Linked DNA regions of Homo sapiens: region 2 is linked to region 1. A link means that fine-mapping ties the variant in region 1 to the expression of a gene that starts in the linked region. Tissue or cell type: nasal epithelium. Region 1 holds a variant in brackets; the other region holds the start of a gene. All regions are shown on one strand. Distances are between the middles of the regions.

Region 1 (9,019 bases):
ACCCCAGACACACACATTCTTCCCTCCACAGGCGTCCGGAGAATTCCTGCAGGGGCAGGTGTGGAAGGACAGGGCCCAGCTGCAGTCAGAACAACTCCATAGAGACCGCCTCAGTCCTGCCTTTTTAAGACACTGGAACCCATTAACTGGGAATTTTGTGCTGAACGCCCAGAAAATCCCCGGAGCTTTGCTCATAGTTTTGGGTCAACATTGGATAATCATTAAACAAACGTGTGCGTGGTCGCTGCCACGCTCCCATTCCACTCCTGGGAGCAGGAAAGACCCGAGTCCGTTCACTTGAGGCCTCATGTTTCACCAGATCCCCAAGGACTCCATCAGTCCACATCCAGTATTTTATTTTATTTATTTACTTAGAGACGGAGTCTCGGTCTTCGCCCAGTATGGAGTGCAGTGGTGCCATCTTGGATCACTGCAACCTCCGCCTCCCTAGTTCAAGCAATTATCGTGTCTCAGCCTCCCAAGTAGCTGGGATTACAGACATGCACCACCACACCTGGCTAATTTTTGTATTTTTAGTAGAGACAGGGTTTCAACATGTTGGCCAGGCTGGTCTCGAATTCCCAACCTCAGGTGATCCTCCCGCCTCAGCCTCCCAAAGTGCTGGGATTATAGGCGAGAGCCACTGCGCCTGGCCCACATCTGGTATTTTAAAGATGGGGAAACCAAGCCACACAGCAGAGGCGTCACATGCCTCCAGACATTCCATTATTTGCTCACTCAATGGACACACAAGTGCTGGGCACCAAGCGTGTGCCAGGCAAGGGGGACCAATCTCCATCCTCAATGGGGCTCTCAGGCGTCCCTTAAACTACAACCAGGGTGCCCGCTGCTCTGCAAAGCAGGGTGTGGAAACACAAGAAAATGTGCGTGCAGTCTACCTGGGGCATGGGATTTTTCCTCGGAACGGGAAGCAGCTCTGAGTGGAGGAATAGGGGCAGGGCACTCCAGGCAGAGGGCATGGCACGTGCAAAGGCCTAAAGGTGAGGCAAGCCCTGTGCGAGTTGTGGGATAGAGGCCGAAATGACAGCAGTGGCATCAAGCCTGCAGAGGGGAGGTTCAGGAAGTAGGATCCACAGGGCACTGCCATGACCTGCACATGGCTGGTAAGGGGTGCAGAGCCAGGGCTGGCACCCAGCTCTCCAGGCTCCCTTCCAGGGCTCCCTGCACATGACCCTCCCTCCCGCGATACCAAGTCTAGGTGGGTTTTCCTCAATGCCAATCAATGCCTGAGATGCAGCTTAGCAGCCTCTGTCCTCCGTCCAGTGCTACACCCGTGCACTCAACTTCCCCACCCCTGCCCGGTCGTCTCAGCTAACTGTGTCCTAGGACGTGGGGAAGGAAATGCCTATAGATTCTCCTTCCCAAGAGGCCCCACTGAGGCTCCGTCGCAGGAGTGGCATGAAATTTACGTTCTGGGCTCCAAGATGCTCTCTCTCATTCAGTATTGACTGAGCACCTACTATGTGCCAGGCCCTGGGCTAGGCACGGGAAGGGTTTGCCTTGTCATCCCCAGCCTTCCTGAGAGGGTCAGGGCTGGAACTGTGCCTCCTACTTCACAGGAGAGAAGTGGGGCTCAGCAGGGCTCTGGGACTCCCTTGCTTGAGATCACTTGGCAGGGAGTTGTCAGGGCGGAAACGTCTGATCACAGGGCCTTTGCCAAAATAGATAAAGGCCTCTGGGGGAACAGGGGAGGCTGGATTCCCTCCTTCCTGCCCCACAGGCTGCCCTTTGTCCACAAAGCGGGGGAGGCTGTGCTGGTGGGCGCTGCCGGGAATGGCGGGCCCTGTCATTACTGGGAGGGGCCGCTCTCTAACCCAAAAGAGCAGAGCCAGGGCTGGCGGCCTATGCTGGGCGCTGAGACGTTCTCAGCCCTCAGTGGTCCTGGCTGGTGCCACCAAAGGACCAAACGCTGCAAGCCTGTTTTTAAAAAACATCGTGCTGAAGACCCAGATCTACTCAGCACTTGTCTTTGGGGCCTGTATGAAAGCGTAGGAATGAATCTGGGATGCAGAGAGTCAGGGGGATCCCGGCCCTCCCGTGCCCCTGAGTATTCAGTGGGCGTGTCTGACCCACCCCCTGTGGCCCCAGCCTGGCCCTTGCTGTGGTGACAGCGTTCCCCCGCCAGACTCTGCTCCTTGGTCTCCTGTCTCCTCCTGGGAATGAGGGCAGGCTCCCTGGACCTGCCCTCCTCATCCCTTACGCCCCCAGAGTAATGTTCCCCCCAAACCCTTGTCTATCTGGAACTGGGGCATAGGCCCTTACTTGGAGATACTAATCAAGTTAAGCTGGGGTCACATGGGATTAGGGTGGCCCAAATTCAATGACGGGTGTCTTTCTATGAGGGATGGACACAGAGACAGACGCACAAGGAAGAAGGCCATGTGGCGACAGAGGCGAGCACTGGAGGGATGTGTAGACGAGCCACGGAACACGGAACAAGGAACAAGGAGGGTGGCTAGCGCCTGCCAGAAGCCAGAAAAAGGCACGGCAGGTGCTTTGTCAGAGCCTCCACGGGAACTGAGCCTACCACCAGCCTGATTTCAGGCATCACGCCTCCAGGATTCTCCAAGAGAGAATGAATTTCTATTGTTTTCAAGCACCCAGTTTGCAGTAATTTGTTATAATATCCCTAGGAAACCAATACGCCCCACCGCACACCAGGGCAGAGCCGGGGGCTCACGTGTGGCCATGACTCAGAGGTTCTTGAGGCATCAAAGTCTGCCCCGGGCTCCACTTCTGTGTCTGGGGTACAGAAGTACATCAATGGCTTCCGGGCCTGGAGGTGTCACAGGCCTGGACAGCCTCTCCCACATTTTGAAGATAGACATAGGTTGCCAGAGTTTTCTGGCATCTAAAATAAAACGTCCACCTAGTATCACCATCTTTCATAAAAGAAAGGACAGGCCGGGTGTGGTGGCTTACGCCTGTAATCCCAGCACTTTGGGAGGCCGAGGTAGGCAGATCACCTGAGGTCGGGAGTTCGAGATCAGCCTGGCTAGCATGGTAAAACCCTGTCTCTACTAAAATACAAAATTAGCTGGGTGTGGTGGCAGGCACCTGTAATCCCAGCTACTCAGGAGGCTGAAGCAGGAGAATCACTTCAACCCTGGAGGTGGAGCTTGCAGTGAGCTGGGATCGCACCACTGCACTCCAGTCTGGGCGACAGAGTGAGATTCTGCCTCCAAAAAAAAAAAAAAAAAAAAAAAAAAAAAAGAAAAAACAGCTGACATGGAAAGTAGCTATGCCAAGCCAGGCCTTCCTTTTCTTATTTCACCGTGGGTCCGCGGAAGACTTCACACGGCCCTAGGCCTGGCCTGGGTCTGGGATTTGGGAACCAGTGGACTCAGGCCACTGTGCTAGGTGACTTTTTCAATCGTGGCTGAGGAGAAGCATGGCCGGCCTCCTCCATTCTCCTATGAGTACAAAAAGGGGGTCTCCCTCTCAGAAATCTGACCAGTATATTCCAGTGAACATGAGGGTAATTCTAGTGAACACTCTCGGAGTACTGGGTGATTTCCTGGTCTGAGGGAAGAGGCCCCCAGGCCAGTCACCAGGCAGCCTGCTGGTGAGGAAGAAAAGAAAACACAAGCGAAAAGCGGGAGATGCAGCAGGGAAGCTCTGATCTTTCTCAAGAAAAACAAAAGCGCTTTGTGAGGCTGAGGTGGGTGGATCACCTGAGGTCAGGAGTTCGAGACCAGCCTGGCCAACATGTGGAGAAACCCCATCTCCACAAAAAATACAAAAATTAGCTGTGGTGGCATGCACCTGTAGCACCAGCTGCTTGGGAGGCTGAGGTGGGAGGATCCCTTGAGCCCAGGAAGTCAAGGCTGCAGTGAGCCGAGATCACGACACTACCCTCCAGCCTGGGCAACAGAGCAAGACCCTGTCTCAAAAAAAGAAAAAAATGAAGAGAAAAAAGCAAAGCAAAGCGTGAAATTATACACAATGTGCAAATGTCAAGGCTGAGGACCCCAGCTCTCTGCAGGGTCCCCTCATAAACCCGTGCCTAGCCACAGAGCGAGGTGCCAGATGCCTGGTGCTCCAGGAATAGCTTTCCAAACATGTGGCCCTGGAGGCCTGATGACCCAATGGACACTGGTCACCTCGTGCTTGGAAAACGTCACACCCATGTCTGCCCCACGGTACCCAGTGCTGGGACAGCAGCCCAGGGAAACATTCGCATGAGCGTGAGGAATGTTTCTTCTCCAGCAACTCCAGGCGCTGCTGCCATCTCTAAGGACGCTCCAATGGTGGGGATACCCTCTCCTGGAGTGCTCGGCTGGGACAGTCTCAGCGTGAGCGGCAAGCCTCACTCAGATGATAAGGTCTGACGCCGTACCCTTCCAGGCCCCGATTTCAACTCCCCTCCCTCCTGTTCTGCACGCCTAGACCAGGGGCAGGGTGGGCCCCAGTTCTCAGGAAGCCAGGAAACACACTCTTTTCTGGGCTAAATGCCCAGATTCCTCGAGCAGTCACAGGACACACTTTTTCTGAGCTGATCCAAAGCCACAAGTGTGGACTGGAAGTTTCTTTGGGCGGTGTGAACCTGCAAGGACACAGCCAGGCACACCTGGAATTCCAGGCTCAAAGCTGGTCAGTGAGAGAGGCCCCAGCTGACCCTGGACAGGCAGGGGCTCCAATCCTGCCCTGGCAGTGTGACCCAGGGATGGGCCTGCCCTCTGTGGGCCTCCATTCCCTTTTTGAGAACACCAGGGTTAACCCACTCTGCCATCATTTGCCAAGCATTTCTTGAGAAGCTTGTGAAGCCATGTGCTGTCCGAGGGGTTGGGGACACAGGAGTGGACAAGAGAGAGAAGGCCTTCCCCTCCCACAGGTTTTGCGTGGTTGGGAGGTAGACACAGACATGAGAGTGAACAGACATGGTCATTTCAGACAGCGATACGTGCCTTGAGGGAAACGCAGCCAGGGAGTGACTGGGTGGTGCCAATAAGGGGCCGGGTTTCAAAGAGTCACTGGGGCCATCAGATCAGATCATGCAGCAAATTCCTTGGCACATAATCAGCACTCAACAGACAAAGGGGTTCTCCTGTCCTCCCACTGCACAGGTGGGGCAAGTGAAGTCAGAAAGAGAAAGGCTGGGCCAGGCGCGTGGCTCACGCATGTAATCCCAGCACTTTGGGAGGCCGAGGCAGGCAAATCACTTGAGGTCAGGAGTTCGAGACCAGCCTGGCCAACATGGTGAAACCCCTGCCTCTACTAAAAATACAAAAATTAGCCAGGCGTTGTGGTGTGTGCCTGCAGTCCCAGCTACTCGGGTGGCTGAGGCAGGAGAATCGCTTGAACCCGGGGAGCAGAGGTTGCAGTGAGCCGAGATC[G/A]TGCCACTGCACTCCAGCCTGGGTGACAGAGTGAGACTCCGTCTCAAAAAAAAAAAAAAAAAAAGGGAAGAGAAAGGCTGGAGTAGGCTGCAAAGGGACTGGGCTGGTGTCGGGCCCAATCTAGCCCCATGTTTCCCAGGGGTCCGAGGGGGAGCTCCCTGCCCTGTTTGCCCCCATAAAGACCCTCCTGCTCTTTCTTGGTGGGAAAGTGATGCCTCCGGTATCACAGCCCAGGCTATCCCACCAAGACAGGTTGAAGCCCCCCATCCTCTCCAGGCCAGGCCAGAATTGAAATATGGGACACTCCACCTATTTGCTGGGAAACTTCGCCCAAATTGATCACCTCTCTAAGCCTCACTTTTGTGATCAGAAAACCAGGAAAGAGATCTACTGAAGATGAGACTGTGTAGGCAAAGTGCCCCGGTACACAGGAGGTCTGAGATCGTGCTTGGTCCCCCCACCCTGGTCTCCACTGATCCTCCCCAGCACTGCGGCAGGGGCTGGGACGGGTGCTCTAGGTGACGGGAATTCTCAAGGGAGCGGGGAGTCAGATGTGGTATGAAGACTTCTTTGCTGGGCATCTTAGCCAAGACCCTCAGCCTCTCTGAGTCTCAGTCTCCCCAGCTGTATAATGTGTCAACCAACATACATGAAGTCATCCAGCCGGTATCTGACGCATGCGTCTCCCCACCCTCATGCGCCCATTCAACCTAAAAATATTCTGACCGCATCCCAAGTGGGCACTAAGTCCTATGGTGGGCCAGGGGTGGGGGGGTGTGGCTGAGCCCCCTGTTGGCGGGCAGAACCCAGTCTCCTCTAGAATCCTCCTGCAGCCACCTGGGTCTGCGAGGGGGTGAGGGCTTGTGGGCTAGCCTGGGCTCATCTTCTTGAGCAACTTCTCCTCCACGGAAAACGACACCCGGACAGACCTGGAAACAGCCCTCCTCAATGCCTGGGACACTACTGCTCACCTAGGGGAACCTACAAACCCAGCCCATGCCCCCAACGCCTACAAAGTACCACAGATATAAACAGTCACACATCGCTTAGCGACAGGGACACACTCTGAGAAATGCATGACGAGGCGATTTTGTCACTGTGTGAACGTCTTGGAGTTGACTTACACAAACCCAGACGGTCTCGCCTCCCCCACACCTAGGCGATAGGGTGTCGCCTGTCACTCCTGGGCTACACACCTGTACCGCATGGTCCTGTACCGAGTACTGCAGTCGACAGTAATGAAATGGTCAGTATTTGTGTGTTTACACGTGGAAAAGGTACAGTCAAAAGATGGCATTATAATCTTATGGGACCAACGTCACATACGCAGTCTGCTGTTGACCAAAGTGTCCTTATATGATGGTGCATCCCGTATTAAAACTCAAAGGCGCCCCTTCTCACAGCTTCACTTTGGACTTCTCAGACCCAAATAAACAAATAAATGCAGGGAGGATCAGAAATCAGTCACAGGGACAACACGATGCACTCTCCACAGCACATGAGGAGCAGGGCTCTTGCAGATTCACGAGGCAGCCTGGAAATTGGGGATACAAATGAATTCCGTGGCCGCCGACCTGCCTGGATGGGGCCTGCGGGCGCGCTCCCGTGAACGCGGGCCTCTCTCGTCCCCAGGAAGCAAAACAACTTCTCTGACAGGGAAGAGAATAAACGACACGCAGAAATAGGAATTTAGGGAAGACAACACTTTCCTTCCTCTCCCCAGGCAGTGCTGGGAGCGTCACAGATTTTATCATTTATTCTCACAAGTCGGCAGGCATCGGCCTGGTTTTTCACAGGAAAGCCGAGAGAGGCTGAGGGTGCCAAGGGGAGAGCCCTCCGCTGCCCCAACACCCAGCAGGAAAGGGTAGGAGAAGGTGGTGGGATGGGAGAAAGAGCTGAGGATTCTTTGTTTTGTTTTTGAGATGGAGCCTCACTCTCTTGCCCAGGTTGGAGTGCAATGGCACAAGCTCGGCTCACTGCAACCTCCGCCTCCCATGTTCAAGAGATTCTCCTGCCTCAGCCTCCCAAGTAGCTGGGATTACAGGCGTGTGCCACCATGCCTGGTTAATTTTTGTTATTTTTAGTAGAGGTGGGATTTCACCATGTTGGCCAGGCTGGTTTCGAGCTCCTGGCCTCAAGCAATCCACCTGCCTTGGCCTCCCAAAGTGCTGGAATTACAGGTGTGAGCCACCACACCCGGCCCAGCCAAGGACTCTTTTTGGGTGGAAGTGCGGCCTCAGGTAGCTGAGAGGCTCAGGAATGTCCACAGTGGCATCAGCACCTGGGCCTCCCCACTGGCCTCTAAGTCCTCCCAGCCTTAGCACCGTCATTTTCCACACGCGCCACCAGACACATATTCCTAAGACCCCATCTCCCCTTCCTTATCCACCTTCAAGGTTTCTGGGTTGCCATCCCTCCTGAGCTTAGCACCTAAGACCCCTTGACCCATCAAGCCCAAGCCCAGGTGATGTCTGTCCTCCACCACGTCAGCTCCACGGAGCCACTTATGGTTCCTGCAACTGCTGTTTCCCACCTCTGCACCTGCTCACGCAGTCTCCCCATGCTCTAACTGCAGGCCTTCGCCACCTGGCCAACCCCTACTGATCTGAAGGGTGCTCTGATGAACGAGCCACAATAGCAATAGGAGGAGGAATTATTGTTTAAAAAGCTAATAGCTAATATTTACATATCAATAATAACATACTGTTAGGATTTGCATGTATGGAGGAGGGGCTGTGAAGATTCAGGCTCAAGCACTGGCCCCTCTGCACACACTCCAGCCACACATAGACAACCACTGTTCCAGCCACTGTCGTCCTGAGTCCACGGGGATTCAATGGCCCCTTCGATGTACCACGGGCTCATTATTGCTTCATGATTTTTCTTTTTCCACTCTTGCTCTTAGGCTGACCCTATGGCTTCTGTGGGCCTCGGCCTCACCCTGCTCCCAAGCCAGATCCAGGTATGAAGGGCCAGGGTCAGAGGAGAGTCAAGGGCAAAAAGCACATTGCCCTCCTTGACTGATGAGGAGACTAAGACCAGGGCCCCAGCCCACCCTTGCCCCAGTCACCCATCCAGAGATGATTCCTGAGACTCTGGAGCCACTGAAGCCCCTGGGGAGCATTTCTTCTGACTTGCAGCCCAGAATTCTTTACTCCCTGATCCAGGGGTCTCCAGGTAGGAGCTCAGGCTGTGGACACCAGGTGCCCGGCACTGTTCCAGGCTGCTCCCCACTTCTCCCCACTCTCCCCAGGACAGCCCCGTTCCCCCTCCTCTCTCCTGAAGTTCACAGCCGCCTCCCAGCCCCCCAGCCTCCACGGGCCACACTCTGCTTCAGGGGGGCCACTCCCCTGCTCAAAACCTTTCCAAACACCCACCTCCCGCAGGATCAAACCTAACTGTCGTTTAAAGGATCACCGCAGCAGGCACAATGGGTATGTGAGTCACAGAGCTGGTTCCATCCGTCCCGCTGACCTATCTGTCCCCAGAAAAGGCCTGGGCTTTGGACACAGTGGTCTCAGCATCTCAGCTGTCCCCATGGCCACAGGCCTGAGGAACAAACGAAGGGTGCATTGCTCCCTCCCCTCATTACCGTCACCGAGGCCTTTGCCAGGCCAGGCCCTGGGCTGAGCACTGGGACCACAGAGGAAAGTGGCTCAGTC
Region 2 (9,019 bases), 23 kb after region 1:
GGCCACCGCAGACCACCCCTCACTCCAAGAGCACTCCTGCTCCCCAGAGCTCCATGTTCCATGTAAAGTTCCACGGCATGTGCACACCACTTCCTAAGAATGATGTCAGCAAAAAAAAAAAAAGATAAAAATGTGGAAAAAAGGACTATTTTTACCTCCCCAAATCACAGGCCAGACGGGAGAAAAATCCATCAATGCCAGAAATGTGGCTGAGCCTTCGCACAAGATCTATTATTTCACACCTTAAATTAACGCATCTCAAAGCAATTTGCAAATGTTCGTCAATTTGCAGAACATACATGGAAGGGAGAGAAATACCTTTTCCTTTCAACACCGAAGGACACTGGCAGGGGGGCACAACATGGCCCAAACCACACAGGTCCTCACACACAACATTCATTTCAAGCACATGTAGTAGAAGCCGTGATCGAAATGGAAATGAGCAGGGAAAAAAGGCAGGCAGGGGACTTAAATGACAAGTGACAAGAAGCCTACCTACAAGCGATCTCGCTGTCAGATATTTAGGACTGTGAGTCAGGCCCGTGAAGGTGACATCAGGGGGCCAGAACACCGGACTCTTCCTGCGAACAGTGTCCCAGCCTCATCTCCACACAAGCCTGGCAGTGCCTGCCCGTATTTAATCTTGGATGATTCACCAGGTCCCTCCACTCTCCACCCTCCAACTCCCTTGCTTGGTCTAGCCTGAGAAGAGGAAGGAAATATTCTTCTCCTTTTGACAATTGTTTTGACACTTCCCTTATGAAAAGTATCTGGGGCACTTAAAGAAAAGAAAAAATGTGAACAGCAGCCCTTTCTCTCCAGTAGCTCTGGCCCTGGGCGAGGAAGGCCAGCAGTGCCTTCTGGAAGACCTCTCCCAGGTCTCGGGCAACCCAGCCCTGCAGGAACCTAGCCTGTCTTAACCTACTTGGCTTTGCAGCATGCAACAGGAGCAAAGCACGACAAAGGCAGCCAGATGTGGTTTAAGGTGAGGAACTCTGGAATCAGAGACATGGGTTCGAATCCCGACTCTGCCATTTGTGGGTTTATGACCCTGCCCAAGTTACTTAACCTCCCTCTCTGTAAGATCAGGAAAACGACACTGAACCTCAGCACAGGCCAGGCATCCAGCCCACAGTGCCTGCTACCTTCCTAGTACAGTGGGGAGACCATGGGCTCTGCTCAGACAAGCCTGGGTTCAAATCCAGCTCTGCTGCGTATTAGCACATGGTCTTTGGCGCATTCTCTCATCTCTCTGTGCCCCAGTTTCCTCATCTGTAAATGGGCATCGTGACAGCTTCCATCTTAGTGTTGGTGAGTGGACTGGGTAAAATACAGCACCAGACCTAGCACACAGTATATCCTCAGTAAATGGGGACATGGCCGGGCATGGTGGCTCATGCCTGTAATTCCAGCACTTTGGGAGGCCAAGGCGGGCGGATCACCTGAGGTCAGGAGTTCGAGACCAGCCTGGCTGGCCAACACAGTGAAACCCCATCTCTACTAAAAATACAAAAATTATCTGGGCGTGGTGGCACCTGCCTATAATCCCAGCTACTCAGGAGGAGGCTGAGGCAGGAGGCTCACTTGAACCCAGGAGGCAGAGGGTGCAGGGAGCTGAGATTGCGCCACTGTACTCCAGCCTGGGCAACAGAGTGAGACTCTGTCTCAAAAATAAATAAATAAATAAATAAAAATAAATGGGGACCATCTATCGTGGTGCTACTTTAATGAAATTATGCAAGTCATGTCTCTGAACCTCAGTTTTATCATTTGTGAAATGGGGATAATAAACCCTATCTACGATGAGCAGAAAATGAACGGATGTGTGCTAAAGTACTCAGCACTAGGTCTGTGCACCTTAGCCAGTCAAATACCATATCCCAAGTGCAATGGAAAGAGGAAAGGCTGTGAGGCTGGGCAGGTGACTTCGGATTCTGCCCCCACCTCCTCTCAGCTGCCCCAGGACACAGGCTTGACCCCCGTGTGCCTCAGTTTCCTTGTGCACAAAACCAAAAGCATTTTCTGTCACAGAAGACCAACGGGAGATTCACACCCCCTAGAACGGCTCCCAGCACACAGCCCCTTCTGCTCCGCAAAAGGGAACTTCCTCCCCATTTCCCTCCTCTGCCCTTGTTCAAACCCACCAGAAATGCCACCAGTTAAAGCCAGGCGCTCCATTTCTGGAAACCCAAACAGCTCTAAATCCAGACCAACCTGGGTCTAAGGCCTTCAGTCTGAGACTTTATTTTGTGGAGATACAAACTACTTTTTAGTCATTTCCGAAGCAGACGGGACAGCAGAGGCTGACAAACCACAGGGACCATTTTAAATCCTGGGCCTTTTCTTCTGGGAAGTTAGGCAAGAACCTTCCCAAATGTTTGCCCGTCAGGCTCTCTGCCAGGGAGTGACTCATTCCACGGCTCCCCACAGGCATATTTTATTTGGGGGTGGGGGACGCAGCGAGGGCTTGGCCTTGATGGGGGAAGGAGAGGGGGCATTTCCAGCAAACCCAGAAGGTGTTTTCTTTTTTTCATTTTCAGGAGAAAAAAGAAAAAGAATGTGGGTCTTTTTTGCTTCCTTCCAGGTTTTGTTTGCTAAAAGAAGACGTCCAAAGTTCATTCGGTAAGCTCAAACTCGCTGAGTCCAAACTCGCTGAGTCCGGGGCAGGCGCTTCCAGACGGCTCTGCGTCCCTTTCAATGAAATTCTTCTTCCATTAACGACAGGGTTTTTAAACGTGCCTCCAAGACCTGCCTGCACGTACTGTACACCAAACTAAGGCGACATTTTCCCCCAAAAAAGGCAAGCTGAATTTGGAAAAGTCAGACCAACTAGGGAGCTCTGGAATTTCTAAAGTTTGCCTTAAAGCAATTAAGACTTTCAGCTGCAAAGATTTTCAACAGTTAGAGAGCACGCACACACACAAAAGCCTGTCAGTCAAAACTGCAAGGACAGACCTCGGAAGCTGGTGTCCCAAGCCCGCTGTGATCAATTTGTTACTGTCCTGGGATTCACACTTGGAGCCTAGGAGAGGTATAAATAAATCAAAAGATCCGTCTACTTAGCAGGGCAGGCAGAGAGGCCCCCACATACACAGGCAAGTCTAGGGTCAGCCCCCCAGGCCTGGCTGGAGAGAGACAAGAACAAAGACAGGAGAGCCTGGAGGATATTTAGGAAAACACACGTCCTCGGGTGCCCGGCCGAGGGGCCCACCACAGCCTCCGCTCGCCCAGCCTGTGTATGCAGAGAGGGTCCTGCCAGTGGCCCTGCCGCAGCCTGGCTCTAAGACCTTTGCCTCTGTCAGGCCCAGCCAGGCTCTGAGTCTGCCCTCCTGGCCCCTGGTTCACCGGATCAGGCCCAGCCCCGACCCCCAGCCCATGCCAGGCCGCTTCTCTCTCCACGGGCTCCCTGGCTCGGGGGCCATCACTGTGCAAAGGCCTGGTGGGCGCAAAGGGGGCCGGCCCCTCAACCTCAGTAATAAACACGCTCGCACGGCCCTGCACACTCGTTATACTCACACCCACACAGGCATACTTTCGCCCTTCTAGGCTCACGCATGTGCTTGCACACAAATCACTTTGGAATGCACACACGTGCACACACACACTCCCTGAGACCCGCACGTACTCCCTGCGGCGCCCGGCACACTCCTCCGCCCGTCGTCCCCACTCGGGAAGTGGGTAGCGGGGAGCCATGCCCGCGTCCCCGCACGCACTCACCCCAACAACGCCACCAGACGCTCCGGGGTGCACACGCACACCCGCCGGGGACGCGCACACCCCGGGACACGCGGACACGCCGCCCCCGCCCGCCCGGCCGCCGACACGCTCAGCCCCGCGCGGCCACACTCGCGCCCGCCTCCCGCTCTCCCCCGCGGAGCCGTGGGCGCGCGCCCGCCCTCGGCCCGGCTGGGGGTGACGGCCCCGCCGCCCGGCCCCCGCCCTTCTCCGGGCCGCGGGGCCCCACCGGCCCGGCCCCAGCCCCAGGCGACTCACCGGCGCGCGGGCGGGCTCGGCTGCCGCTGGGGGACCGGTGCGCTGGCCCGCGGGCGGCTGGAGCGGTGCGTCCCACACGAGTTTGCGGCGCAGCGGCCGCACGCCCGTCAGCTCGGTTCCGCCGCCGCCGCCACCGCCTGCGCGGGCCCGCGCGCCCGCGCGCCCGCCCCTCCCCGCCGCGGGGCCGCGCCGCCCCCAGCGCTCGTGCGCGCTGCCGCCACGCAAGCTTGAGGGGCGGGGGGCGCCCCGGCGGCGTCCTTCCTGGGCCTGGACCCCTCGACTCCGCCGAGTTCTGCGGCCGATCCGCTCGGCCGAGGAACCCCTTCCCCATTTCAGAGATGGGAAGACTGAGGCCCAGACTCACAGGGCGCAGGCCGGCGTCTCCCCATCTTCTCCGGCTCTAGACTTATGATGAGGGTCTGCAGTCAGCCAACCCTTGGACTCCTGTGCGTCTTCGGATTCCCCATCGCCTAGCATTGCTCCTACCACAGCCCTAGTCATACTGAAATTGGCACAGTAACAAGCACTTATTGTGCACCAGCTGAATGCAGGCACTGAAGTAGGCTCCAAGAGTATTCCGATGAGGGGAAGGCCCTGCCCCCTGCCCTCAAAGTGCCAGCGACTCTTCATCTGGAGCTCCCACTTCCTGTGGCCCCCGGGGGACCAGCAAGAGCCAATGTGCAGAGGTTTCTGGAAGTAGTAAAAGTCCCCACTAAAGAATGTTGAACGCCCCCTCTAGAAGTCAGAGCCTCCCTGAGACCCAAGCAGCTCAGTTCTCACTTCACCTCCTCCCCGCACCGAGAGCGGCCGCTCCTGGCTGGGCTGTTTCCACCCCTGCTGCCTCCCCTCCACATTCAAAACTGTGCTGCACCCCAGGAGGGCTGGAGCCAGGGACACTGACTGCCTGCTTGGGCGCAGCACTGTACTGGGCACAGGGTGAATGCCCGTCTGGCTTCTGTTTGCCAAATGAGTGGAAGTGCTTCAACTGGCCGTGATCTGTAATAATGACACCAACGGAGCGTCCACCACGTGTGCCAACGTTACCCTTGTGCCCATTTTACAGATGGGCTTTGAGGCTTAGAAATGAAATTTCAGGCTGGGTGCGGTGGCTCACACCTGTAATCCCAGTACTATGGGAGGCTGAGGTGGGAGGATGCCTTGAGGCTGGGAGTTTGAGGCCAGCCTGGGCAATATAGCAAAACCCCATGTCTACAGAAAAATGTAAGAATTAGCTGGGTGTGGTAGTGCCTGCCTGCAGTCCCAGCTACTCGGGACGCTGAGGCGGGAGGGTCTCTTGAGCATAGGAGTTAGCAGCTGCAGTGAGCTATGATCGCACCACTGCACTCCAACCTGGACAACAACAATAAAAAGCAAATTCTTTTGTTCAAAGTCACCCAGATGGTAAGTGGTTGAGCTGGAAAGTGCACGGCAGATTGTCTAATTCCAGTGCCTGTGTGGCCAATCACTAGGCAGCCCTGCCTCAGGAACAGCATAGCCCTGGGCTTCTGGAACAAGAGGGCAGACGAGGCAGCAGCTGGCCCACAGGAGCGGGCCTGGTCCCAGCTCTTGTGGATGAAAATGCAGACATCACAAACCAATGGGGAGGAAATGGATTGTTCTGCAAATTGTTTAGCCGTTTAGCTGGAGATCTGTTTACAGCCTTGCCTCCCATGATATACACCACAATAAATGTCAGACAGATTGAAAAGTTAAATAGAAGAAATAAACACTGCAACAAATAATAGAAAGAAATCGAAGTTCTGAGACAGCGTATTGCAGTGTTACTAGAGGATTTGTGATACTGGCCATATTCATGCAGCAAACATTAGTTCAGTCATTGGTTCACCCGACACATCTATGAGCACCTTCCATGGGCCAGGTACTTTTCTAGGCACTGGGATAAAGGAGTGAACAAAATATGGCCCTTTCTTGGGGCTTCAGTCAAGGGGGAGGGATGGGGTGGGAGGAAGACACTGAATATCTGCCATTTCAAGGATAAGAAGTTTGGGCCGGGCGCGGTGGCTCACGCCTGTAATCCCAGCACTTTGGGAGGCCGACGCAGGCGGATCACAAGGTCAGGAGATCGAGACCATCCTGGATAACACGGTGAAACCCTGTCTCTACTAAAAATACAAAAAAATAGCCGGGCATGGTGGCAGGCGCCTGTAGTCCCAGCTACTTGGGAGGCTGAGGCAGGAGAATGGCGTGAACCCGGGAGGCGAAGTTTGCAGTGAGCCGAGATCGCGCCACTACACTCCAGCCTCAGTGACAGAGCGAGACTCTGTCTCCAAAAAAAAAAAAAAAAGAAGTTTGGTGGAGAAATAACTCGGAAGGGTAGGAGGACCCAGGGGTGCTTTTTTATAGGGGGTGCTGGAAGAAGGCCTTTCTGATGAGGTGACATCTGAGCAGAGGCCTGAATGAGGGAGTGGGAGAAGTCAGTAGGGGCCCACTGTGTGGAGGGCAGGTCCCATGTTCTGGCAGCTATTCAGTTAAGCTACAGAGCAAGAACCAGAAACTCCCTTTTGAAGGAAACTTTGAGAGCCGCACCAGGCCACTGGGAGGAAAGGACTGCCCCCACCCCCAACACACAATATCTATGTAAGACTTTACTGCTTGCAAAGCCCTTCCCCAGCTTCACAGAACCCGTATGACAGATACTTGTGATGTCCTCATTTTCCAGTTAGGAAACCGAGGCTCAGAGAGGTCAAGCAATCTGTCCCAGGTCACACAGCCAATGATAATCAACAGAGGTAGGTCTGGCTGCAGGCAGGCTGAGTGTTAGGGGAATAAAGAAGCCTTGTCCTGGGATACAGGAGTGAACAAAAATCTAGCTCTGACTCTCTTGGGGCTTCAGCCAAGGTGGGAGAGTGGGATGGGAGGAAGACACTGTGAATGTCTGGCATTTCAAAGATAAGAAGTTTGGTGGAGACCAGGCGCAGTGGCTCACCCTGTAATCCCAGCACTTTGGGAGGCCGAGGTGGTGGATCACCTGAGGTCAGGACTTTAAGACCAGCCTGGCCAACATGGCGAAACCCCATCTCTACTAAAAATAAAAAAATTAGCTGGGCATGGTGGCACGTGCCTATAATCCCAGCTGCTCGGGAGGCTGAGGCTGGAGAATTGCTTGACCCCAGGAGGCTGAGGTTGCAGCGAACTGAGATCATGTCACTGCATTCCAGCCTGGACAACAGAGCAAGACTCTGTTTCAAAAAAAAAAAAAAAAAGTTTGATGGAGAAATAAAGCAGGGATAGGTAGGAGGACCCAGGAGTGCTTTTGCATTGGGGGTCCCCCTCCCCCTTGGATGGGAGCAGGGTAGGGGAGGCCCATGCACCCCATTTTCCTGGCCTTCCTCCTCCTCCATCCCTCATGGCCACTTCTTTCCCTCTGTCCTGGGCCCTGTGCAGATGGTCCCAGCTCCTGGTGACACTATGGGGCAAATATCAGGGTTAGCCTGCTCAGAGATTCTTGAATTCCCTGCAGTACTCTGATACACTGACGAGGGCACAGTAGAGTGATAAGGTACAATGCAAGCTGAATCCCACTCAACTTTTGTTTTTAACTCAAAGGAGTTTTTAGGGAGTCCCAAAATGAGTCATCGTGAAGCAGTGCTTTGCAAAATGACACCCAGAATTAGGATGAGCGTCTCCCTGCACACGTTGCCTCACACTTCTGCCCACCGAGGCGTTGTTCAACTGGTCTGGGAGAAAGTCTGTCTCCGTTCACCCCCAAAGAGTTTCAGGATTCAGTATGTGTTGTTTCATTATTTCTCTGCACGAAGGGAAGAGAAACTACCGCTTGCCGGGCACCTTCTCTGCATCTGGCTCTGTAAGAGACAGTTAATTCTTATAGCATCCCTTGAGATAGGGGTCATGATTTATGTTTTATAGATGAAGAAACTGAGGCTCAGAAAATAGCCAGGATTTGAATCCAGGTTAACTCAAGTCCTTTATTGTTGTTAGTATTGGGGGAGGGGGTAATGGGGGAGAGAGGAGAGGCAAGAAGAACTTAGAATCAGGCCATGTTCCTTTGAAGTTCCTTTGTTACAAAATATCTTCTTGCCATCTTCCCGGTAATGGGATTTTTTGTAGGGGGTGAGTTCCAATTTTCCCAGAAGGATTCATTCGCTCTTGTCATCCGGGTGCGATTATTGACAGCAACCCCTTTCCCTCTGCAAGTGTCTTGCTTTGGATGATCAACTTTAGGGTCACCTTGGGTGTCTGCAAAGGCCACTGCGTTGGGGGATTCATTTTTTACATTATACAAAATGGGGGTGTCTTGTCTGCTGGGCTCTTCGCCACATACTGATGTCTGGGTGTCCCACCAAGAACTTCCAGGAGAGTTTAAGCAGTTAAGTCACATTTTTAGGAGCAGCAAACCCTGCTGGCTGCAGAAGGAGTTGGGACCCTCTCCACCTCCTCCCCAGCCCTGCCACCACTCCCTGTGTGACCCCGGGCCACTTCCTGCCTAGCACAATGTGGGGATGGGTCTCCAAGAGTCCTGTCAACCTTGACCTTCTAAGATTTCCTGTTACTTGATGACCCGGGGGAATTTCGGTCAGGATAGGGATGTAGGAGTCATCACATCATCATATGGCTCACTTTATAAAGTAGCTGGCTCATTTTTTGTTATTTAACTTAAAAAATGTTTAATTTGTTGCTTGAATAGATAATACTTGCCCACAGTTCAAAATTCAAAAGGCACAGAAGGGGACAAAGTGAAAAGTGTCCTTTCTACCCCTACCTCCCAGCCACCTGGTTCTTATCCCTGGAGGGAGCCAACGTTGCCGAATATATGCTGTCCTAGACAGTGTGTTTTGTGTGGGTGTGTATATATGTATGCACGTATATATGGTCGTGTGTATGTGAATGTATATGTATTTCTTCTTATTTTTTGCTCATATAATAGCATACAATCTACACTATTGTGTATCTTATGTTTTCTTCACTTCTTGGAGACCATTTCCTGTTGGCTCCAGAAAAACTGCTTCCTTTTATATGACTGCATAGTATTCCAAACGATTTGCAT

What was found.
Region 2: NEK6 starts here. The variant in region 1 is fine-mapped to the expression of NEK6 in nasal epithelium (TOPMed, PIP 0.95).

The regions. Positions count from the first base shown.
Region 1 is chr9:124,275,703-124,284,721 of GRCh38, reverse strand. All of the region lies in intron 1 of NEK6 (NIMA related kinase 6), which reads right to left. Among named protein-coding and RNA genes, the nearest start is that of NEK6, 22 kb to the right of the region's middle. RefSeq lists a silencer at 1,658-1,952. The variant G/A (reference allele first, on the strand shown) is at 5,358.
Region 2 is chr9:124,253,060-124,262,078 of GRCh38, reverse strand. NEK6 (NIMA related kinase 6) reads right to left here and starts at 4,130. Exons shown (of 10, transcript NM_014397.6): 1 at 3,994-4,130. It overlaps LOC613206 (a long non-coding RNA gene), which reads left to right and starts at 911. Exons shown (of 2, transcript NR_149024.1): 1 at 911-985; 2 at 2,585-2,869. RefSeq lists enhancers at 2,568-3,513, 7,259-7,348, 7,379-7,468, 7,479-7,858 and silencers at 3,551-3,920, 3,981-4,110.